7 linked regions of the Homo sapiens genome follow. The protein of the gene in region 5 purifies or fractionates together with the protein of the main gene of each other region. This does not show direct contact. Each region holds a gene or a part of one and is shown on either strand. Other genes may lie near its edges. The genes, in order: S100A7, CTR9, ARK2N, ESF1, CDK11A, GPATCH2L and ZNF33A.

Region 1 (3,969 bases), about 150 Mb from region 5:
TGGTAGTCTGTGGCTATGTCTCCCAGCAAGGACAGAAACTCAGAAAAATCAATCTTCTTATCCTCATTCTTGTCCTTTTTCTCAAAGACATCGGCGAGGTAATTTGTGCCCTTTTTGTCCTGTGAAGAGAAAAACATACAAAATAGAAAAATTCAATCACAAACAAGTTTTGGGCTGGGAGGGAGAGGAGGAGGCAGAGATACAGACAAGTACCTAGATCTGCACAGGCATGGTGGCGGGGCTGAGAGCACAGGGTGAGTGGGTGAAGTTGGGGTGAGGACGTGAGTGTTATCCCTGGAGTTCTCTAGGGAGTCTTTTTGTCTCACACCTCAGGATGGGAGGCAGGTCCTGTCCCAAGGTGCTCTGTTAAGTGACCTTGGGGAGAGCAGTCCCCTGCCCCAGCCTCACTCTTTCCCGTCCCAGCCTCTAAGGGCACTGCCTACCTTAGTTCTACCCCAGGGCCTCAAAATTGGCCCTCATGCTTTTGTTCTCTTCTTTCTCTGGCCTCCTCTCCTTTCTTCTCCTTTTCCACCAAACTCATCTTCTGGGTATCCTACTCTTGGTCATCTAGACCCTTTGGTACCTAGTAGCCCACAGTTTTTTTTCAGATTTGCTAATGAGTCTTGTTTATTGCAAAGAGGGCTATTGATTTCTACTAACAATGGAACTTCTAGTGCTTTCCCAGTAATCTCAGGGATGTTGATGTGGGGCCTTTGGGAAACAGGACCTGAGCATGTGAGTTTCAGTCTCACAGAGAGAGGGTCAGTGAGTGCTGGGAGGGGACTGTGCACTGCCCTCAAGCTGCACACTTTGCTGACCATCTAATAACCTCCTTTATATCTGTATAACTCTTTCCCATTTTCATACTTTTTTGCCTACCATCCTTAGATTCACATATGATCCAAGTAATAAAGCCCTATTTGCAAATGGGAAATTTTTTAATCAGAGGGTGAGGGTGATCTGTCCAAGGCCACATAGCAAAATGTATCCTCCAACATTGAGAAGCTAGACACCGACTCACACAGGCACTAAGGAAGTTGGGGAAGTTCTCCTTCATCATCGTCAGCAGGCTTGGCTTCTCAATCTTGTCATCACGTCTGGTGTATTTGTGAAACATGTCGATCATGCCTATTATGGACCTCTCAGCTTGAGTGTTGCTCATCTTTGCTTTCAAAAAGCCTTCAGGAAATAAAGACAATCATTTTTTTCCCTTCATTTAAGTTAGGGTCTCTATTTGGGAGTGCTGGAAGGAGGGCTGAGGACAGAGTAAAAACACGGATAAGGTGTAGCAGAACGAACTCAATTTTTTTTTAATGTGATGGGATAAGTTGCTCAAAAATGAGAGGGTAGGACCAAGTCTGAGACCTGGCCCATCCTGGCCAGGGCCAAGAGGAGATGCAGGTGGATGGCGGAAGTCCAGCTGTGGACAGTGCTTCAGAGAGGGAGAAGCAGGGAGAGTCGGGCGCCAGCAACACATGGAAGAACTAAGCTGGGACACCCCAGCCTCAGCCAGCACATGGCAGACCCCACTCTTAAAAGAGCACCAAATCCATCTCCTCCAGCTTCACAGTCGGGGTGACAGTCATGGGGGCAGGACAATGGCCTTGGTGATCTGGTGTCTGACCCTCCTCGGCTGCTTCAGGAACCAGACACCGTGGGCCCCACCTTGACTCAAGTGCAAGCCCTGCATGACACGGTGTGTGCAGGCTCCAGGTGCACATGTGAGCGTGGACGTGAGTGTTAGCAGGAAACACAGTCCTGTCCCGAGCACAGGGGGCCCTTCTTGTATTCCCTTGGGAACGAGAAACAGGAATGGCCTCTGTTACAAGGAACAGAAATAACTCTCTGGTTCTTAAGCTGCTGGACGGGGTGGGAGTGAGGTGGGAGTCACTTCATGTCTGCTCTTGGGAATTATCTGCACCCTCTGAATCACCAAGCCTTGACTGTTTAAATAAAAATGTCTGACTTCCCAAAGCAGATCTTTCAGCCAGTAGTCAGTCTGGGCTGGCCTGCACCCCAAGCCTGAAAAATAGGACAGTGCAGTTCTCACTTCCCACACTTTCCAAAGAACCAGGAAAGGACCTTGGCTAATGCATATGGGTGTCTGACAATAAACCCCCAACACCTCTCAATGCAGGAGAAAGCTCCATGCCGGCAACTGACTAAGAGGAGCCACCCAGAGCTTTTTTGAATCTGAGGCCAAGGCCAGAGGGCAAGCCCTGTGCCCAGAGGGTGACTGACAATTTGCAGGTTGTGGTAGGGAGTGACGGAGCGTTGGTTTCTCAATACCTTACCCAGGTAGGGGCAAGCCATCTGGCCAGGGCTATGCTGTGTCGGGGTCCCAGGCCTGGGGGTTTGGAGAGCCTCCAAAGCATTCACAGGGGACCCCTAGCCCTCCACCCTCTGTGGAGCTGGAGCTGGGGAGGGGATTTAGCAACCGGGACCCCAACAGGAGGATGAATCCAGGGAGGAAGAGGACAGGGAGGGTCCTGTGCTCAGGTCCCACTGGGGACATTTCCACAGGAGTTGCCTCAGGAGATCCCAAAGGAGCAATGGACAGGTCTGGTTCAGCCACCTGGTTATACAGACGTGGGCTTTTGGGGTCAAGTGAAGGTCACACAGCCCAGCTAATGGCAGAGCTGGCCTAGACCCAGGCTTCTGAGTCTTTGTCCACAGCCCTTTCCCTTCCTACAGGCAGCATGGCAGGCCAGGCACTGGGCACTTCTAGAAAACGCAAAGAGGCAGGTGAGACTTACCAGAGCTGGGAAGCGTCACGAGTAGAAGGATGAGTGAGATGTGTGTGTTTGGACAAAGAGCAGTCCTTTATAAGGCTCAGCCTGGCTCTTCCCAGGGGCTGGGAGGCCTGGGGCCACCTCTGTCATCTGTTTCTTGGAGGCTTGCCCCACATCAGGTGGGTGGGACACACCCAGGAGGCTGTGCTCAGGATTTCTGGCCAGTGTCCCAGGTCACCAGGTCCCACCCCACCCCAGAGACCTCACCTGGAGTCTTCTCTGGCTCAACCTTGATTTGAGGGTAAGGCAGCGGTACATGTGTAGTAGCAGGTCAGAAAATGGGAGAAAAGAGCACTGGGCCTCTGGACCCAAAGAGGATGGAGTTTCAGACTCCTGAAGGCAGCATGGTCTTGTTTGTTCCCTCCCCTTATCCTTCCACACATTTGTTATGACAGCCTGTTCTATGACCCCCACCGCTGACTGAGCATTTTAATGTCTAGATATCAAGATACCTGCTGCTCCTGCATCCTCCTCAACCCTCATAGTCCTAAGAGGTGCTTCAATCTCTATTTTAGGAAAGGAGAAGTTGAGATGTTCCCAAGTTTACTCAGCTAGTAAACACAACAAATCATTATATGGACTCAGAAAAGCCTGAATCAAATCCTTACTCTTATCCCCTGTGCTATAGGTCTTGGGTCACATCAGGGTCTGCCCTATGGGAACTCAAAGTCCAGGGAGGGAAGCAGGGTTACTTCATTGCTAACCATTGGTCAGCCCCTCACAGAAGCCCTGGAATTAGGTGGGGGGACTGGGGTCAGGGGCCTCACTATCTAGGTTGAGTGGTGGAGTGACCCCCCCATGGAATGAGCCTGGAGGCAGGGAGTGGGAAAAGTTCTTTCCTGCCCCATGGCACTAACTTCCCAGAAAGTCTTCAGTGTTTTTCCTCCTCCTATGCAAAACAGCCTGTGTAGGAGTTGGGAGTTGTGCCCTTGGCTATAATGTGCCCTAACCTGCTGTGGAAAGGCTGACCCAGGTAGGGGCAAGAGGGTTGGGAAGGCATGGGAATCCCTGGGGCATGGTGAGGAAAGGGAGATGATGAATCACTGAAATGGACTTTTTCTGCTACCCCCTTGCAATGTTCCTTTTAGGGTGCAAGAGAGTTCCAGGTTCATTTAGTGCCAGCCCTTTAAGCACTCTGGGGCTCCACAGAGCTGATGTGATGTCTCCCTAGGTGGGA
Region 2 (3,500 bases), on a different chromosome or scaffold from region 5:
TTTCCTCTGGCCTAAGGTAGTGGTTCTCAACTGGGGATGAAGTCATGTTTGGTTATCACAATTGGAGGAACGCTATCGGCATTTAGTGGGTAGAGGCCCGGGATGCTGTTAAAACATTCTATAATGGAAGGGACAGTTCCCCACAACAAAGAATTATCCAGCCCAAAACATCAATAGTACTGAGGCTGAGAAACCCAGGTATCCCTGTTTTGGACAATTATACATAAGGGGAAGCATGATGGAGAGCTTCCTTCTCAATATAAGACAGGGCTTCTCTAAGAGAAAGCCTTTTTATCCTTTCTCTTTCCTCCCTCTTTATAAGACCGATGTAATAATGAGAAGCTGGAGATGCTGCAGCCATCTTGTGACTATAAGGTGACAGACATGATGAAGAAAGGCTGCACATTAAGGAAGGGAGGACGGAATTATATAAAATCATAGGTTTGACGACAAGGACCTATCAAATTTGAGACCTTTGACAACTGGTTTAGTAAACACTAAAAGCCCTTATGTTTAAGGCACTGGGATGTGTTTTTTGTTACGTGCAATGAAAGCATTCCAAACTGATATACAAGTCTACGACCCCTTATCTGAGATTCTGAAATCTAAATGCCTTAAAAAACAAGTTTTGTTTTCTGTTTTTTTTTTTTTGGTAATCTTGGAGCAAACTTATTTGGTGGCAATACTACCTGAATTGTAACCCTATCCTACTAGTGTAAACAGTCTATCATTTTGCCACAGAAATATAAGTTTGCTTTTGGGGTAGTGCCCCAATAACTAGGTGTTATACATTACAAAGTACAGGTACCCTTCTGTAATCTGTAATCTTAATTTCTAAGACACATCTGGCTCCAAGAGTTTTAGATAAGAGGCTGTGGGCCTGACAAAGCAGTTAGGAGCTAGATACTTTTTTCATTTACATACCTCTTTATTGTTGAGTTCTAGAACAGCCAGTCCAACCAATGCTCCCACGCATTTGGAATTGAGTTCCAGGGCTCTGCTGAATGCCAGACGAGCTTTTTCCAGTTTGTTAAGTTTCACAAAGCAATGACCCATTCCTAAACGAACTTCCGCTATAAAATGAAGTCATTCAATCTATCAAACTAGGGCATTTTTTAGAGTTCAATTACAAAAATGCTTAAACATTCTCTATTTATGAGTTGCAAAATCCCCAAAATTAACCTCAGTATAACTACACTACAGAATCTTTTGACCTATCACAAACTTGGTTTCCTTGGAGGCTACATCATACCATATTCCAACCCTCTCCTCTATCACTGACACATTTCTCACTATAGAACAGAACACCTATAATACTGGTATTCTTCTTGTCTTCTAACATCGCTGCTAACCATACCTTCAATTTCTCATTATTGAAGAACAATTTTTAAACAGAGAACAAAAGTTCCACTAAGACCTTAAATAATATGACTGATTATGGGCACATACCATTGTTCCTTTCAAAGCTATGCTCATATGTGCTACCTCATTTAAGGCCATGCCAAAACACAAACAAGTTCCCATCTAAAGCCAATCACCATACTGGTCACTAGATGCCCTCTTATCTATTTAAGAATACTGCTCCAGCAACCCTCCCCTATTTTTTCTCTCTACTGGATCATTCATTCTCATCTACACATAAACGTTCTGCCATCTTATACAAATCCTCTCTTGATTCTATATCCCTTTCCAGTTGTCGATCATGTCTGTTCTTCAATAGCAAAACTCCCAGAATGATCTAGCTACGCTTGCTATGTCTAATTCCCTTCCTTCCATTTTCTCTTGAATACACTCCAGTGAAGCTCTCACCCCACCATTCCAGTAAAACTGCTTTTATCAAGGTCACTATGGATTTGTATGGTGCTAAATCCAATGATCAATTCTGTGTCCCTATTTTACTTGACCTAACAACAGAATTTGACACTGTTGGTCATCATCTTCTTCTGGAAACATTTTACATTTGCCTTTAAAGACAATGCACTTACCCTATTTTCCTCCTATACCTCTGGCTATTATCTTCTCAGTCTCCTTTGCTGATTCTTCCTCATTTCCCTAATCTCTTAATATCAGAGTGCTCTAGGGCTCCACCTCTAGACCTCTTTTCTATTTGCACTCATTCACAGCTTTATACACTATCTATATGTTGATGACTTCAGCCCAGACCTCTTTCCTGAATTCCAGCCTTTCTGCTGTCTTCACTTTGTCAATTTTAAATAACGGGATTTGGAAAATATGATTAAGTATAGAGTGTATTGGAGTGCAAGGTGTAAGAATGGCCACCAGAAAAGTACTGACTCCAAATGAATGATATCAGCATTTTCCAAAGTGAAAAAGTTAAGGTTTTAATTATTTGGGGGAAATAGAGAAGTTCTAGTAGGATTGTAACATTCTAAAATATAACACCAGGTGCCTATGTCACAGCAATTTGATTGGTTACAAATTGCTATATTCTAAAAAGATTATTTTATTGCTCCATGTGAGGGGGATCTTATTTCTGGCACCATTTGATCTTAATTGTTTACAGAAAAAAAAAGGCAGAAATTGCAACTGCATGCCACGTGACTCAGGTTGTATAGCCACATTCTTCTCAAGGCTCAGGATAAAGCTCTAAAAGCTTTAAGGCTGAACTGCTTAATTTGACAACTTATATGTCTAAAAGGTATTTCAAACTTTTCAGGTCTAAAACTAGTTCCACTTAAACTATTTCCCAAATATAGTAAAATATAACTCTACTTTTCCAATTGCTTGTGCAAGGGAGTTATCTTTGACTCTTCCTCTCTGTCTTATACATCATAGGTACTCCATCAGCTCTCCTTTCAAAATACATGTAGAATCTGACCACTTGTACCAACTCCACTATTACCTCCCTAGTGTGAGCCACAATCACCTCTGACCTGCCTGTCTGCAGATGCCTTCTCCCTGCTCTCCCTACTTCTGTCCTTGACCCCCTCCCCTTGAGCCCCACTCTAGTCTCAACCCCAAAGCTCAAACGAACCTTTTAAATATAGGTCAGATCACGTCACTCTGCTGCCCAAGGCCCTCCAATGGCTTCCCATCTCTGTCGATGTAAAAACTAAAGTCCTTACAATAATCTGTGATGCCCTACGTGATTAGTCAGTCCCTGGTTATAGCTTTGACCCCATTTCTTACTACTTTCCCCCCAACTCTTTCTCTCTCTATTCCAGAAACAATGGCCTCCTTACTCTTCCTTAAACTTACCAGGCACTCTCTTTCCTCTGGACCTTTGTACCTTCTATGCTCTCTCTCTAGGAGTGGTCTTCTCCTATATATCTGCATGGCTGCTAGTTGTTTTTTAGGTCTTCACACAAATGTCACTATCTCTGATGAGTTTCCTTGGTCATCCTTTCTAAGCAATTCCTGATGCTTCTCATACCCTTTTTCTGCTTTATTCTTCTCCTTGGCTCTTACTGGTAGCTTACACATCATACATACTTTACTATTTATCTTGCCCACTGAAAACTGGACTCCATGAGGGCAGG
Region 3 (3,500 bases), on a different chromosome or scaffold from region 5:
TAAATAAAATTGTAAACTTGAAAATGTTCATTACATGTTGGCCTTTCAAGTTAGAGGATTAATATTATGGCATTTTTAGTAGCTCAGTATGCTTAGATTTTGACCGTATTAAGTCCTTTGAATTTGACTGTTGATCAAACAAGCAGATAATAATATATATATATTTTAAAGGCCTGTGTAATAGTAAGTTTTGCCCCACCCACTTAGAAAGGTAGGCATGTTGTGTTGACTAAATAATCTGGCATTCTGTTTATTGACTTTGTGTGTTTTTGTACAGGTTGCTTTCCTGTTGCATCTTTGATATCATTTCCTAGACTCTACTCCATGATTTAACTTGAAATTCTGAAATGAAGATGGAGGAGGCAGTGGGAAAAGTTGAAGAACTCATTGAGTCCGAAGCCCCACCAAAAGCATCTGAACAAGAGACAGCCAAGGAGGAAGATGGATCTGTAGAACTGGAATCTCAAGTTCAGAAAGATGGTGTAGCGGATTCTACAGTTATTTCTTCAATGCCCTGCTTGTTGATGGAACTGAGAAGGGACTCTTCTGAGTCTCAGTTAGCATCCACAGAGAGTGACAAGCCTACAACTGGCCGAGTTTATGAGAGTGACTCCTCTAATCACTGCATGCTTTCCCCTTCCTCTAGTGGTCACCTGGCTGATTCAGATACGTTGTCTTCCGCAGAAGAGAATGAACCCTCTCAGGCAGAAACGGCGGTAGAAGGAGACCCTTCAGGAGTGTCTGGTGCCACAGTTGGGCGCAAGTCTAGGCGGTCCCGATCTGAAAGTGAAACTTCCACTATGGCTGCCAAGAAAAACCGGCAATCCAGTGATAAACAGAATGGCCGAGTCGCCAAGGTTAAAGGTCATCGGAGCCAAAAGCACAAGGAGAGGATCAGGCTACTGAGGCAGAAACGGGAGGCTGCTGCAAGGAAGAAATATAACCTGCTGCAGGACAGTAGTACCAGTGATAGTGACCTGACTTGTGACTCAAGCACGAGCTCATCAGATGATGATGAAGAGGTTTCAGGGAGCAGCAAGACAATCACTGCAGAGATACCAGGTAGAGGATGTTTTTTAAACTGACTGTAAAGTACCTGATGGCATTTCTCAGCTATCAGGTTCAGTTAGATGAGTGACACTTGAAAAAATCCAGGAGACCTGCAGCTCTGTGTAAATTTGAAGACTGCAGTCTATTAACAAGACATGGCCAATTTATAAAACCTGTTCTGAGGTTTCCAGTGAACTTTAGCACATCAGGAAAAACAAAATTAAAGGGTTAATGATAGGGACAAGATTATTTTTAAGTAATGGAATTTCTCATAAGTCTGTCTGTAACACATTACCTGAACTCCCAATCATTGCCTTTTTGGCACTGCTTAGATTTAATACTCACTGTTCGGCATCATTACTGAGTACATTCTCCTCAGGAATAGGCACCTTGCTTTATTATATAGCCACTGCACTTGAGCTTATAGTGTCTGAAATAACACATTCTATCTTTTGTTAAAGTTTTCTAATAATTTTTCCTCCAAAAACAGTAGTTTTATGTGTTTCCCCCATATTCAATGCATGAGAAGCTAGTTATCCTTGTTACAAATCTTTCTATCCTCACGTTGAAAAGAATGTCTTTCTGAAAAATTTCCCATTAGTTCCCCAAGTTTTAAAAAAGTTTGTTAGAAATCCGCTTGTTCTAGCTCTCATTGGTATAAGGGTCTGTAACTTATTACATATTTGGTAAATCTGCTTTCCCCATTCTTATTGCATCTGGTACTGTGTACTATAATACAAAGGCAGTCTTGAGATTTCATAGTGGAAGAAAGATGTATCTGAATGGTTCTTAAGTAGTGAATTCTTATTATCCAAGAGATCCTTACAATATGATCAGGAACATTTTGTAAACTGTATGGCATTGAATAGGTCATGGCAGTATTGTTTATTGCCACATTGAAGAGGGGCAAGTTTGGGTTTTCTAAAGTTTTATGGGTGACTATGTTTTTTCTCTCCCTGTTTTCTGAAAGCTTTCTGTTTCTACATGTGAAGACAGCATATTGCTGATATACAAAGAACATTTCAAGAGAAATCATATTGGTTAATGGAATCTATAGCTTCCCAAACTTATATAAATTCAGTAACAAGAATGATTGGTTTTAAAGCACTTTATAGGTGTTCAAGTTCTGATAATAAGTCTTGTCCATATAATATAAATATGAGTCTCAAACGATCTTTAGAAATGCTTTTTACTGTTTTAATATCTCTATTGGATTCCTTTGCTATTGTTCCTTGTAATAAAACTACCGGGAGGGGGATTTCAATGAAGCTCATCAGTTAAATGTATGAGAGAAACAGACTTTGGGGTTGTTCTAAGGCAGGTTTTAGGTATATATTTTAGTTTTACATGTATTAATATTTTTAAAAAAACCTTATTAATACCTGTAAAATTGTGCATTCCTATATCCTCTTCTAACCTCTTAATCAAGACCTTGATGGAACTCTTAATACAATACTTACTTCCACTTACTAAGCAGGATTTTATGTAACTACCCCAATACTTTGCCTTTTTGTGGAAAGGAAGAAGGTGGGTAAACAAAATTTAAAGTCAGAACCCTATTGTAAGGTGGCTTGAGAAATGTCTTCATAGGCACTTTCCCTGTTTTGCTTAAATAGGTTAGATGTGCTTTGTTCATATTTTCCTAATCTTCTTTCTAATTGAGTATCTTGACCACTGCTTAAAACTTAAAACACCAGTGTCTGTTTCTTGTCTCTTCTGAATTGTGTACTAACTGAACACCAAAGTAAATTAATTTGAATCTATAGTTTGGTTTCTATTGTTCACACCATTTAGTAACTTTGTGGCTTTTGAAAATACACATAGTTTTCTAAGGTAATCCTGGAGAATCAAATGGTAGATTGAGGTACAGGGTCACTGTATGTGACTGCCTGTGTGTGTGCTGGCAGTTTTGGGAGGTCTTATGGTATACCTGCCATTCCCATAAGACAGGTATGAATGATCTTTACTGGAATTATGCAAAGCAGCAAAAATGGAACAACTTAGAGTTCAAATATTAGGAATTTCATTTCAATTGTCCATATTGTTGTCTCTTGAAAAATTGTGACATTGTGAATTTTTAATGTAACAGTGATGTATCTTTCAGTTTACTGAGTCACCTTATGACTTTGGGGAAGAGAGGAGGCACGTTCAACCTTATAGTAAGAGCAGTTGTCGAAAAGTTGCCTAAATTGTAAAGGTAGGATAAATTATGAACTGACTTGAGTTCAACAACATGGACATTCAGGTGAACTTAAGCTGGATGGGCCTAACAGAATCTCTTGGATGTCGGAATGTTAATTCAGCTGTTTACACAGAATGGAAACCAAGTGGAAAAGTAAAAACCGATTATTGCCATACTCTTTCATTAAGGTACAACCAATTTAGTAATTCAGAAAATGCTCTTTATAAGCTTTTGTTTGGGCTCAGCTTAAAAGTTGAAGGCATTATCC
Region 4 (3,500 bases), on a different chromosome or scaffold from region 5:
GAAATGATCCCTATTCTGACAATTAAGCCTGAGCTGATAACCACCAAAACACTGTTGGAACTAGGACAGATGTTGATGATACAGCCAGGACCCAGGAACTTTAGACTGGCTGGCTGGACAGGCTGGCCCTGATCATTATGTTGGTTCTGAAAATAACATGACTTTAATTTCATGTGACTGAATTTTTTAGACTTTGCTTACTATGTAATGGTAGAGTTTTACTACACCCAGTAACTAATCAATGCCATACAGTGCCCACCACGGCATAGCAGGTGGCAGATACAGCTACTCTCTCTGCTACCAGTCCCTCCTCAGAGAAGCACGGTGATTTATCACACAGGAAAAGCAGAGGGAAGCTAGTGTGGCTACTGCAGAGTACAGCTGTGGACAGAAAGGTTATTGGGAGAAAGAAAAAGGAGAAGGGAGGCCAAGGCGGGTGGATCACCAGAGGTTGGGAGTTCGAGATCGGCCTGACTAACATGGTGAAACCCCGTCTGTACTAAATATACAAAATTAGCTGGGCATGGTGGCGTGCCCCTGTAATCCCAGCTACTCAGGAGGCTGAGGCAGGAGAATCACTTGAACCTGGGAGGCAGAGGTTGCAGTGAGCCAGGATTGCACCACCGTACTCCAGCCTAGGCGACAGAGTGAGACTCAGTCTCCAAAAAAAGCAAAAAAAAAGAAAAGGGAGAAGGGGCCAGGCGCAGTGGCTCACACCTATAATACCAGCACTTTGGGAGGCAGAGGGGGGCGGATCATCTGAGCTCAGGAGTTCAAGACCAGCCTGGCCAACATGGTGAAACCCAGTCTCTACTAAAAATACAAAAATTAGCTGGGTGTGGTGGCACACACCTGTAATCCCAGCTACCGGGGAGGCTGTGGCAGAAGAATCACTTGAACCCAGAAGGCAGAGGTTGCAGTGAGCAGAGATCGCGCCACTGCACTCCAGCCTGGGCGACAGAGCAAGACTCTAGTCTCAAAAAAAAAAAAAAAAGAAAGAAAGGAAAAGGGAGAAGGTAGTCACCTAAGTAATAAACTATTTCAATAGACAAAAACCTTTTGGCTATTTGTTACTAAGCATTAATGTGACATCTATTATACCTTAATTATTCCATATCAATTCTTTTTACAGTTTTGAATCATCTGCAGAAAAAGGTACTCCTATTTTAAATTTTCACTAGTTTTGTTTAACTGTGCTGGGAGGTAATTCATTATCCACTTCCCCTTATTCCCTAGGATATTAATAACTGATGTATTAGAGTGTATAGGAGATACTCTTATTTTAAATTTTCCCTAGTTTCATTTAACTGTGCGGGGAGGTAATTTATTATCCACTTCCCCTTATTCCTTAGGATATTAATAACTGATTTATTAGAGTGTATAGGAAAGACAGAAGAGTGTATAGGAGAGACAGAAGAGTGTACAGGAAAGACAGAAGAGAAAAAAGAAACATCAGCAGATAACTGACACAGGCTTAAATGCGTAACAAGAATCTGAAAACAGGTTCACAGATATGGTAGAGGCAGACACGCTTGTGTCTCATTTCTCTCTGTACCCATGCATTAAAAATTTTGAATACTTTGAGGCTGGGAGCAGTGGCTCACGAAACCTGTAATCCCAGCACTTTGGGAAGCCAAGGCGGCCTCACTTGAGGTCAGGAGTTCAAGACCAGCCTGGTCAACATAGCGAAACACTGTCCCTAGTAAAAATACAAAAATTAGCCAGGTGTAGTGGTACACACCTGTAATCCCAGCTACTTGGGCAGCTGAGGCACGAGAATCGCTTCAACCTGTGAGGCAGAGGTTACAGTGAACTGAGATCATACCACTGCACTCCAGCCTGGGTGAGAGAGCGAGACTCTGTCTCAAGAAAAAATAATAACAAAAAAATTAATACTTTCCATTTTTAAAGATGCTATAAGTAATATACAAAATCTCTTCATAAAGCAATAGAGTCCAGCTACATATTTTTTAAAGTAAAGAAATACCGTTGATGTTCCCATTGCAGCAGAAGTGAAATATTTTGGTTTATATGCTGTTAAATTCACTTCTGAGGCTACATCCTTAGGCTCATCATCAAAAGTAATATCATCTGGTATAAACCTAAGAAGTAAAGAAAAAAAATTTATTTAAAATACGCTGCAGTGATAACCACAGTTTAGATTCTCATCTAATTAGTTGTAGTTTATACATACACAAACTTTCTAAAAGACACACGTTTAAGAGACAATGTTAGACATAACCTTTGTATATTTCTGAATGAATTCATCTTTGTATAAATTTCTGAAATTCATAAGCTATAACTCTGTAATTCCACTAAATTTAAAAGAATGCTGTATAGATAGAAATCGTGCATTAGGAGTCAGTTAATGAGTCAGGTGCAAGCACATGTGGGTCCCTCACGTTTCAAAAAGATCCAGACTTCTGATAGTGCAGTCATTGACTACATGATTTTGTTGTTGTTTTTACAGAGAGGGTCTTGCTCCATCACCCAGGTTGGAGGTCCATGGCATAATCATGGCTCACTGAAGTCTCAACGGCCTGGGCTCAAGCGATCCTCTACAGGTGTGCGCCAACATGCCTGGCTAATTTTTACTTTTAAAATTTTTTGTAGAGACAGGGTCTCACTATGTTGCCCAGGCTGGTCTTGAACTCCTGGGTTCAAGCGATCTTCCTGCCTAGGCCTCCCAAAGTGCTGGGATTATAGGCGTGAGCTACTATGCCCAGCTGGCTATATTGTATTTTGAAGATCAAATATAATTATTAATGGGTAAGCATTGTGAATACAAAGTATCATATACATGAGGTGTCACTGAAAACAAGGGAAAGCTTAAGGTTGAGTCTTACAATTTCCTAATTGTACATTTAGCCATTTACATTTAGAGCAGTGTTGTCCAACAGAACTTTCTGTGACAAGGGCAATGTTCTATATCTGCTCTGTCCAAAATGGAACAATTATTTGAAATATGACTACGCAACTGACTTATAAATTTTAACTAAAATAACCAAATATGACTAGTGGCTACTATACTGGATAGCATGGATCTAGAGATAACAATCTGTTTTCAAATTCCTCTGCCCCTTCCTCCATGCATTTTTAAAAGTTAACTTCATCTGGTTCCTAGCTCTAAAAGCAGTTGCAAGGAAATATTATTGTGTAAGGTACACCATCTTAAAAACAGAGCCAATATGTCTGAAAGGACAAAGATGTGGGGATGATTCATACATAATACTTTAGCACTGTCTTGTTTGTTTTCTTTCTTAGGAGTGATGTTCCATGGGATAGAGTTAACCGAAAAGCAAAAAAATCATTTTAGAATATAAAACAGAGATCACTACCAGTTCAAATATTTTACTTCTTATAATCATGTTGTACTAAAAGATTAAATTGGTAATACATACACTGGATTACCTTAGATCTATGAAAGAACAACTACTTTCAAATTCCAGGCCATCACAATCCTCATAAATTTTACTAGCTGTTTCCGGAGAATCACAGTC
Region 5 (3,500 bases):
AGTTGTTTCCAAGCCTTTACTAAATTCAACATCTGGACACTCAAGACAGTTTCTACTGATGATGTTCTTCCTCAGTACGGGTCACACTGTCATACTTCTTTGTATTTTAGATAATACATTTGTAGCAATTCTGGATTCTAAGTTTTCCCTTTCGTTGTTACCACCAAGGCCTGTCTGGTTGTCCGTGAAATCCATCTCCCTCATAGCTCATGGCCACCCCGTTCCTTCCCACATGCCTATTTTAATTTTCAACCTTGGCTTCCTAGGGGTCACCACCATGGCTGCACAGCTTAGCAATTAGCCAGCACTGGAAAAAGGCTGGGCTCAAATACCTCGAGCACAGTAAGGCTTCCTTGGCCCACGGCTGTGTGTGGACAGGGAGCACACTGAACGTTCAGGCGTCATTCGCATCTGTGGCGGCTTCTATTTTCTGCTAGGTCCTTTCACGCAGCTGCATCCTCAGGGCTGGTCACAAGTGGGTGGCGGCTCGAGCTCTCTCCAGTCTCTGCTGCACGTCTTTGGCGGGATCACAGCTGCTCCCAACCACACTGTACTTCATTCTAGCAGACCTCTTGGCCTTTTCCTCCCTCCACTGAGGATGCTGGTGGGCAAGGCCACTGCCCACTGCTCTAAACGGAGTAACCCCTTCCAAGGCAGCAAGGAAACTGCAGGTCCTGCAGCTGCCCTGTCCCAGTGGAACCTCCGTGCTTCCAAGTGCAGAGTGGAAGCAGTAAAGGGAGCAGCTCTCAGGCCAGAAGGTCAGATTCTTACTGCTTTTACCCACAGCTCAGCAGTTTTCCAAGCATCAGTGCTTCTCAGATTATCCTTATCAGTTTCCTTTTTGTCAGAGACAAGGTCTCTCTACGTTGCCCAGGCTGGCGTCATGCGGTCCTCTGGCCTTAGCCTCCCACGTAGCATATGCTACCACACCCAGTTCTGGATTGGCTGATCTGAATCGGCCCTACCCAGAAGTCTGCCCCCAACAATTTTTGTTCATTCACTCTCCTGTCTTTACCTTCTGGGAAATCAATATGACAGCCCAAATTTCATCTACCAACCTCCACTTCTATCCCAAGCTCTACTCTCGTGGGACAAGACACACTCAATGTCTGGCACAGGGCGTGGCATACATGAATGTTTCACACACTAACAGGAACTAGGCCAACTGAAACCTTGCTCACCCAGCAGCGGTCTCGGACCTTGACCCCTGGGCCTCAGTGTCTCCCACACCCTTCGGCATCAACAAGAACCAGCGCCCTCTCATCATCTTTACATGCTGTGTACCCAGCCCTGGCTGCTGGCAAACATCGCTGCACACGCCCTTCCGCTTCAGACTCCTCTCTTCCTGGAGCAGCTTGCAAGCTTTCTGTGGACTCACTCTGAAGGCGGAGATGGGCCTGCTCGCACCTGGCCTACAGCCTTTTTCCTGGTTCACAGAACAGATCTGGGGCTACACCGATGTTCTTTCTTGGGAATCTGGCTCATAAAGGGGAACGAATATACAGACTAATGGCCAGGAGTCCTAGGAGTCCAGTGTCCCGATTTCCAGACTGTTTCAAGGTTTTTGGGATCTCCCTTCTCCTTTTTTTGAGACAGTCTCACTCTGTCAACCAGGCTGGAGTGCAGTAGCATGGTCATAGCTTACTGCAGCCTTGACCTCCCAGGCTCAAGGGATCCAACCACCTCAGCCTCGTAAGTGCTGGAATTCTAGCGTGAGCCACTGCGCCCGGCGGGACGTGCAGATTTCTGATCCCTTCATTGTCTTCCCTCAATCAAATCACACCCGTTCTTACTTCCAGATGCAGTGAAAACTCACTCCCTCAGGACAGTTCTCTTGGTCAGCCTCGTCCAGCGTTCACTGTGCTGTTTCCATGTCTACCACTTCTGCAACAAATGTGACTTCTATTGCCAAATTCTTCTTCATTGCTGTGACAGGACACACTACCACGGCCCTTTCATAAAGTCCTCAACTGACCCAGCCCACTCACCTTTCTCTCCTGGAATGCTCCCTTGCCATTTCCCTTCTCTTCTGTCTTTCCCATTCCCGGCGAGCTTTATCCTGTTCTTCTCGATGTCGTTTCCGACGTTCGTGCTCTCTTTCTTTCACTCTAGCATGCTTCCCTAATGAGAAATAAAGTGTCATGCAAAGAAACCTCACTTCAAAAATTTCACGAGGCCGGGCACGGTGGCTTACGCCTGTAATCCCAGCACTTTGGGAGGCCGAGGCGGGTGGATCACCTGAGGTCAGGAGTTCAAAACCAGCCTGGCCAACATGGTGAAACCCCGTCTCTACTAAAAATACAAAAATTAGCTGGGCGTGGTGGCAGGCACCTGTAATCCCAGGTACTAAGGGAGGCTGAGGCTGTAGAATCACTTGAACCTGGGAGGTGGAGGTTGCGGTGAGCCGAGATCGTGCCACTGCACTCCAGCCTGGGCGAAAAAGTGAGACTCCATCTCAAAAAAAAAAAAAAAAAAAAAAAAAAAAAAAAAAAAAATCACATGAAAATGAAATTAAATCAAGAACATTAAATATTTAAATAATGATGTTAAGTAATCCTAATCTTTTTTTTTTTTTTTTTGAAGAGACAGGGTCTCACTATATTGGCCAAGCTGGTCTTGAACTCCTGGGCTCAAGTGATCCTCCATCCTTGTCCTCCCAAAGTGCTGGGATTACAGGCCTGGGCCACTGCACCCAGTCGAATAATCATGATTTTATGTTAAATAAAAAACTTTGAAAATAGAAAACTATCTGCAGTAAGCGTCTAATTATGAAGAAAGAAGAAAAAAGAAAAACAATTCTGCTATCACAGAAGAGAATTGTAATATTCATCTTTTAAAAATTTTCTATACTGAATAAACTATAATTATCAGTTTTATAATACAAAAACCACTCTTCACAAAGACTACAGAACAAAGCTTTGCTATCAGTGGGCTTCTCCACTGTGCAATGAAGCCACATTAATTAATCAAGCGTATTTATAATAATGAGATTTCAATCGGGCTCCAGGTCCAATTTTCCTAACACCCGTAAGAATCTCCTGATGTTGGTACGAGATCAAACTGCTCAAGCCTAACCCATTCTTTGGACTTGAGCAAATACCCATTTTGGGGTGTGTTTTTCTCCTATACTTGTTGAATTCAGGTCATTTTAAATGTAAACAAACTGCTCCCAAACAATATAATGGGGGAGAGAAAACCCCAGAGGAAAAATGGACTAGCCATTCTGAATGGTCTGTGACACACGCACGCTTTCAGCTAGAGTTTGCTCTCTCTGGTTTTCGGTCTGTGACACACGCATGCTTTCAGCTAGAGTTTGCTCTCTCTGGTTTTCGGTCTGTGACACACGCACACTTTCAGCTGGAGTATCCTCTCTATAGCCCCTCTGAACGGTCTGTGACACACGCATGCTTTCAGCTAGAGTTTGCTCTCTCTGGTTTTCGGTCTGTGACACACGCACGCTTTCAGCTAGAGTATCCTCTCTATAGCCCCTCTGAACGGTC
Region 6 (3,500 bases), on a different chromosome or scaffold from region 5:
AAAACACCATTATATGTGAATACTCTTACTGAAAATAAGAATATGTATGTGAATGTTCTTATTGAAATCTGTTCTCTTCCAAAATCCGATACTCAATAACCTCTTAGTTTCACATCAGGATAAGCAGCTGTCACTAAATCTGGCACAAACGGCAATGGCAAGCTGAAGGAATCTCCTGATAATATATATGTCCCAGGAGTTTCCATGGATTAGTTTAGGAAGGAATGGAGAGAACCTTAAGCTTTGAGACTTACTTTGACTCCTCTAGAAAATCCTTGAGCTAGCTCCAAAATTCAGATAGTTAATGTGTGATTGAAGGCATGAGTATGCTTGCTAGGGGGTGATTGCTCTGCCCAAGGAGAACCATAAAAGCATTAAGTTCTTGGTCTCCTCAGAACTCACCTCTTTGAGCTGGCCGAGAAGGTAAAAGGAATGTGGAATCTGAAAATTTATCCAATCCAGAATCCATTCTTTCTACTTCAGAACAATGATCAGGAGCCCACTTGGGCAGAAGATTAGGGACAGTGAATCCTGGGACACATTCTCCTTCATAGAACCAATCACTCTGTTCGTCATCACCTAAAGTAAAGACATCATATCATAAGCTAGAATTTTAAACAAGGTCTGAGAAAAACAAATGGGAGGGATGATTTCTTAGTGCCATAGTTTTGATCATCCTTTTTTTTTTTTTTCCTTTTTGAGACAGAGTCTTGCTCTGTCACCCAGGCTGGAATGCAGTGGCGTAATCACATGTTCAGGCAATCCTCCCATCTCAGCCTCCCAAGTGGCTGGAACCACAGGCTCATGCCACTATGCCTGGCTATTTTTTTATTTTTTTGGGGATGGATTCTTGTTCTGTTGCCTAGGCTGGAGTGCAGTGGCGTGATCTTGGTTCACTGTAACCTCCGCCTCCCCTCCCGGGTTCAAGCAATTCTCTCTGACTCAGCCTCCTGAGTAGCTGGCATTACAAGCGCCCGCCACCATGCCTGGCTAATTTTTGTATTTTTTTAGTAGAGACGGGGTTTTGCCATGTTGGCCACGCTGGTCTTGGACTCCTGACCTCAACTGATCCACCCGCCTCGGCCTCCCAAAGTGCTGGGATTACAGGCGTGAGCCACCGCGCCCAGTCTTTTTTTTTTTTTTTAATTCTCTGTAGAAACTGGGTCTCCTTATGTTGCCCAGGCTGCTCTTGAACTCCTGGGCTCAAGCAATCCTCCCACCCACCTCAGCCTCTCAAAGTGCTGGAATTACAGGCTGATTATACTTTTAAATAAATCAAGGCATTGTTCTGGTCCTTCTTGATTCATTTTACAATGAAAACTGGAACACCAACCTGGTTTCACATAAATGTCATACTGTGTTAGACTGGACCGCTTTAATAGCTAAAAATAAATAAATAAAGCTACCACTCACTAAACCCTTACAACCTACCAGGATCCATGCTAAAAATCTGTAAATATGTCATCTCTTCCAAGCCCTACACTAACTCCAACTTACAAACAAGGCAACTAAAGCCTAGAGAAGTCAAGGTCAATTTAGTAAACAATGAAGCCAGGATCTGAACCCAAAGCCTGACTAACTCAAAAGCCTGAGATCTTTATTACAAAAACAAACTGCCTCCCCTATACCATTCTCAGTGGTATAAACTTGGAGGTTCAAAACCCATAAATGTTTCTCAATTCAAAGCTAGCTATACCTGAGGGATTTCTTGCTATATTTGCCTTTATCATAAAAGGTGAATAAAGAATATATGTCCATACTTCATTTATCGTTGGTATCTCATTAATGGGACAGAAATCATCTTGACACTAGAAATCCAAGCTACTGCGGAAAAAAAAAATAACCACAGCAACAAATAACATAATCCCCTAAGGCTTTTCAATAAGTTATACCATTTTCCCAAGGCCATTTGTTAATTAACAGCAAAGTCACAACCAGATCCATATATCCAGACTGTTGGTAGTACAAACTTCTTTCTACTGGCTATAGTGATAGTATCTCAGTTTCCACTAGAGTTTATTCCTGCCAACAAAGAATAGATAATTGTATGTCTGCCACCACATACCCCTTGCAAAATAGCAAAATTGAAGGAAATTATTACAAGAATATCTAAAGAGTTCATAATGTAGTCAGTCTCTAATGTACACTGGATTCCAGACAAGTTGCTCAGAAATGTCAATCCCATGAAGTATGAGATTCATGGGTCATTAACACGCAGGATAATAACTCTTAAATCACTGTGGAGATCTCCAAAATGGGCAATGAAAACTGCATTCTGGTGAAAAGCAGGAGATATTACAACTAAGAAAGTTACTCAAAGTGTTCCCTTATAAAAACACACCACAAACAGCTGTCTCTCTTACAGTAGTTCTCAACTTTGAGCATGCATCTGAAGCAGCAGGAGGGCTTGTTAAAACATGGACTGCTGAGCCCTTACTCCAGAGTTTCTGATTCTAGTCTGGGCAAGACCAAAAATGTGTATTTCTAACAAGTTCCCTCATGATGCCAAGCTGGCCTGGGGACCACGTTTTGAGAACCGCTACTCTAAAAGCATCTCACGAAACCAGATACATAGATGAACTGAATACAGGCATTAGTGTATAATAACTAGTTTCTCTGTACTTCAATATATTAATTCTTTTCTTATTCATAAGCATTCCTTAGGCCATTTATTGAAATAGTATATTTAATTAGGCCATGTTTTCTGACGACAAATGGCAAACTATAATGGAATTTTTTTGGTTCTCAAGCAGTCATTCAAGATTTTTAATAATACAAAAAGGGACTCCCTGAACTAGAAGGAACGTTGTGAGACCACATAGACCAGCAGTCTTCAATCAGGGTTCACTAAGATGCCTGATAGAGGAGCTCCTTAAAAGAGCGCTGCCAGGGAATAAGCAAGAAGCTAGGTGGATCGGGCTCCTGACCTCTGGCTCCTCTAGAATTTTGCTTTAAACCAAATAGGCTTAGTTGTTTTACAATCTGAGAATCTATGTTCGATTTTGTTTGGGGGAAAAAAAGGAGAGTTTTCCCCTTAATTGGATTATAAATAATTATTTATTAAACATTTACTATATGCCAGGAACATGCTAGGTACTGTGGTTGCACATAATAAGTCCTGCCTTGAAAAGCCTCAAGGGAAAAGACTCGTACCTACAAACAATAACATAATCTAGTGAGTAGTAAAAGAAACAGTAAGTATAATACAAGGAGCCACAGAGAACAAAGGAGAAAGGGCTATTGGCCAGAACCCCCTCAGCAAACACATGGCACATTTAAATGGGGTCATTGCAGAGATGTAATGAAGTGACTATTCACAAAGGTGGAGACAGTACTAACAAGGAACCCCACAAGGGGATAGTGAAGCACATCAGGTGGAGCCAGCACAGCAGGAGGCCCTTACCATTCCTAGACTTGGAGTGGCAAGGGAAAGAATGGTTATCAGAACCCAAAGAACTGTGGTTATAAAAGAAGGCTGCCAAACAAGAGTGGTGGCCCTC
Region 7 (2,457 bases), on a different chromosome or scaffold from region 5:
ATAAGATCTAGGTGAGTTTGTCAGTCACACCAACTCTCAGAAAGGTGAGAAGGACACCACATGCTGGGAAGAGCCACACAGGGTTCGACTAGGGAGCAGAGTGGAAAAGGAGGGGTTGTGGCGAGCAGCTGTATTATCCAGAGTACAGTGACCACTGTTTGCTGTGGGAGGATGTGAGGGGTTTGGTGATAATTCCAAGAGCTGGCAGGGAAGCAAATCTTACTACTTAGGAATAAGCAGGAATTGTGCCTGGCCCCCCTGACAAGGAGGACTGTCTGCTAAGTTACCTCACCTGTGGAAGCAGAGTGGGGATGGAAATGAGGTTAGGTCATTTGAGGCCCTATTGGCTTCAGATGTCAAGAGAACCAAAAATACTAGTCCTTAATTTCAGGTCACAGTTACCATAATTTAAAATATATTAAGGATGTACAAAAGCAATTCAATTGTTCACTAATGATGATTTACATGTTCAGTCAGAAACATACAACTAACAAAAGAACACCTTAGTACAGAAACAAGATGTTCCTCAGGGTTGGTTGGTTGGTTATTTATTTACTTGATACACTTCATTTTTTAGAGTAGCTTTAGGGTTACAGAAAGTTGAGCAAAAAGTATAGAGAATTCTCATATAACCCTTTCCCCTCCCATCTTCCACAGGCTCCCCAATCATTAACATCTTGCATCATTATGGTTCATTTGTTACAATTAATGAGCCAACAGTGATACATTATTATTAACTGAAGTCCAGAGTTGACATTAGGGTTTACTCTGTGTTTTCCGTTCACTGTTTTCCATTCTCTGCGTTTTGACAAATTACAGTACCCTAGAGAGTACTTTCACTGCCTTAAAAATCACCTCTCTACCTGCCATCCCTCCTTTCCCCTCAACTCTCAGCAACCACTGGTCCTTTCACTGGCTCAATAGTTTTGCCTCTCCCAAAATGTCATATAATTGCAATCATACAAAATAGAAAGCCTTTTCAGATTGGTTTTCACTTAACAATAAGCATTTAGGGTTTCTCCGTGTCTTTTAATGACTTGATGTCCAATTCCTTTTTATCATCTACCTGAGGACTGTATCCTGCAATCCTGCTGTAATTGCTTATTAATGTCAGCAGGGTTTTTGTTATTTAGAATTCTCTACAAAGACAATCATGTTACTTGTGAACAAAGTTGTATTTCATCCTTTCAAATCTATGTGCATTTTATTTCTTTTTTTTTTAACACTGCATTATATAGCACTTCCAGTACAATGCTGAAAAGCAGTGGTGTGGTGTTCCTTGCCATGTTCCTGATCTTAGTAGGAAAGTGTCTAGTTGGAAACATCAAGGATAATGTTAGCTGTAGGGTTTTTTGTAGTATGTTCTTTACCAACTTGAGTAAGTTCTCCTGTATTCCTTCTGTGTTGAGAGGTTTTAACATGAATGGATATTGGATTTTGTCAAATGCTTTTTCTGTACCTATTGATATGATCGTATTTCATCTTTGAGCTGCTAATGCATGCAATGGATTACACTGAATATCAAATGTTGAACAAGCCTTGCATTCCTGATTTGCTAATATTTTGAGGATTTCTGCATCTGTGTTCAATGGAAATATTGATCTGTAGTTTTCCTTTCTTGTAATATCTTTGCCTGGTTTTGCTATTAGGGTAATACTGGCCTCACAAAATGAGTTGGGAAGTGTTATCTCTGCTTTTATTTTCTGAAAGAGATGGTAGAGACTTGGTATCATTTCTACCTTAAGTATCTCAAAAACACATCAGTGAACCCAGCTGGTCCTGGCACTTTGTTTTGGAAAGTTTCATTATTATTTTTTGAGATGCAGTCTCATTCTGTCACCCAGGCTGCAGTACAGTGGCACAATCTCAGCTCACTGCAACATCCACCTCCCAGGTTCAAGTGATTCTTCTGCCTCAGCCTCCTGAGTAGCTTCGACTACACACGCATGCCACCATGCCCAGCTAATTTTTTGTATTTTTAGTAGATAGGGGGTTTCACCATGTTGACCAGGCTGGTCTCGAACTCCTGACCTTGTGATCCACCCGCCTCAGCCTCCCAAAGTGAAGTGCTGGGATTACAGGCATGAACCACTGTACCTGGCCTTGGAAGGTTATTAATTACTGCTTTGGTTTATTTAATAGATACATATGCCTATTGAGGTCTATCTTGTGTGAGCTTTGAGAGAATGCGTCTTGCAAGGAATTGGTCCATTTTAGCTAAGTTATCAAATTTATGGACAGAGTTGTCCATGTTTCTTTCTAATCCTTTTGGTGACCATAGGATTAGCTGTGATGGCCTCTTTCATTTTTGGTATTAGCAATATTTGTCTTCTGTTTGTTCTTAAGCTAGCTAGAGGTTTATCAATTTTACTGACCTTTTCAAGGAACCAGTTTTGGGTTTTATCGATTTTCTCTTTTCAATTTCAATGATTTTTACTCTAATGTTTTTTCAGGTTA

The links.
Region 1: the proteins of CDK11A (region 5) and S100A7 purify together in Homo sapiens (affinity purification with mass spectrometry; one large-scale study listed by BioGRID and IntAct). This does not show direct contact.
Region 2: the proteins of CDK11A (region 5) and CTR9 purify together in Homo sapiens (affinity purification with mass spectrometry; 2 studies listed by BioGRID, with this or other methods). This does not show direct contact.
Region 3: the proteins of CDK11A (region 5) and ARK2N purify together in Homo sapiens (affinity purification with mass spectrometry; 2 studies listed by BioGRID and IntAct, with this or other methods). This does not show direct contact.
Region 4: the proteins of CDK11A (region 5) and ESF1 purify together in Homo sapiens (affinity purification with mass spectrometry, with the first as the bait; one large-scale study listed by BioGRID). This does not show direct contact.
Region 6: the proteins of CDK11A (region 5) and GPATCH2L purify together in Homo sapiens (affinity purification with mass spectrometry, with the first as the bait; one large-scale study listed by BioGRID). This does not show direct contact.
Region 7: the proteins of CDK11A (region 5) and ZNF33A purify together in Homo sapiens (affinity purification with mass spectrometry; one large-scale study listed by BioGRID and IntAct). This does not show direct contact.

What each region holds. Positions count from the first base shown.
Region 1 is NC_000001.11:153,457,852-153,461,820, forward strand, and holds the start of S100A7 (protein S100-A7), read right to left. Parts: upstream 2,801-3,969; 5' UTR 2,757-2,800; intron 1,180-2,756; 5' UTR 1,163-1,179; coding exon 1,022-1,162; intron 120-1,021; coding exon 1-119.
Region 2 is NC_000011.10:10,757,746-10,761,245, reverse strand, and holds part of CTR9 (RNA polymerase-associated protein CTR9 homolog), read right to left. Parts: intron 1,074-3,500; coding exon 925-1,073; intron 1-924. UniProt on the Homo sapiens protein: Component of the PAF1 complex (PAF1C) which has multiple functions during transcription by RNA polymerase II and is implicated in regulation of development and maintenance of embryonic stem cell pluripotency.
Region 3 is NC_000018.10:46,215,534-46,219,033, forward strand, and holds part of ARK2N (protein ARK2N), read left to right. Parts: intron 1-277; 5' UTR 278-347; coding exon 348-1,062; intron 1,063-3,500. UniProt on the Homo sapiens protein: AMPK substrate important for exercise capacity and skeletal muscle function.
Region 4 is NC_000020.11:13,767,920-13,771,419, forward strand, and holds part of ESF1 (ESF1 homolog), read right to left. Parts: coding exon 3,412-3,500; intron 2,103-3,411; coding exon 1,988-2,102; intron 1-1,987. UniProt on the Homo sapiens protein: May constitute a novel regulatory system for basal transcription. Negatively regulates ABT1.
Region 5 is NC_000001.11:1,714,358-1,717,857, forward strand, and holds part of CDK11A (cyclin-dependent kinase 11A), read right to left. Parts: intron 2,122-3,500; coding exon 1,989-2,121; intron 1-1,988. UniProt on the Homo sapiens protein: Appears to play multiple roles in cell cycle progression, cytokinesis and apoptosis. The p110 isoforms have been suggested to be involved in pre-mRNA splicing, potentially by phosphorylating the splicing protein SFRS7.
Region 6 is NC_000014.9:76,168,922-76,172,421, reverse strand, and holds part of GPATCH2L (G patch domain-containing protein 2-like), read right to left. Parts: exon of another isoform or gene 1,224-3,500; intron 580-1,223; coding exon 403-579; coding exon of another isoform or gene 392-402; exon of another isoform or gene 1-391.
Region 7 is NC_000010.11:38,058,131-38,060,587, reverse strand, and holds the end of ZNF33A (zinc finger protein 33A), read right to left. Parts: 3' UTR 501-2,457; downstream 1-500. UniProt on the Homo sapiens protein: May be involved in transcriptional regulation.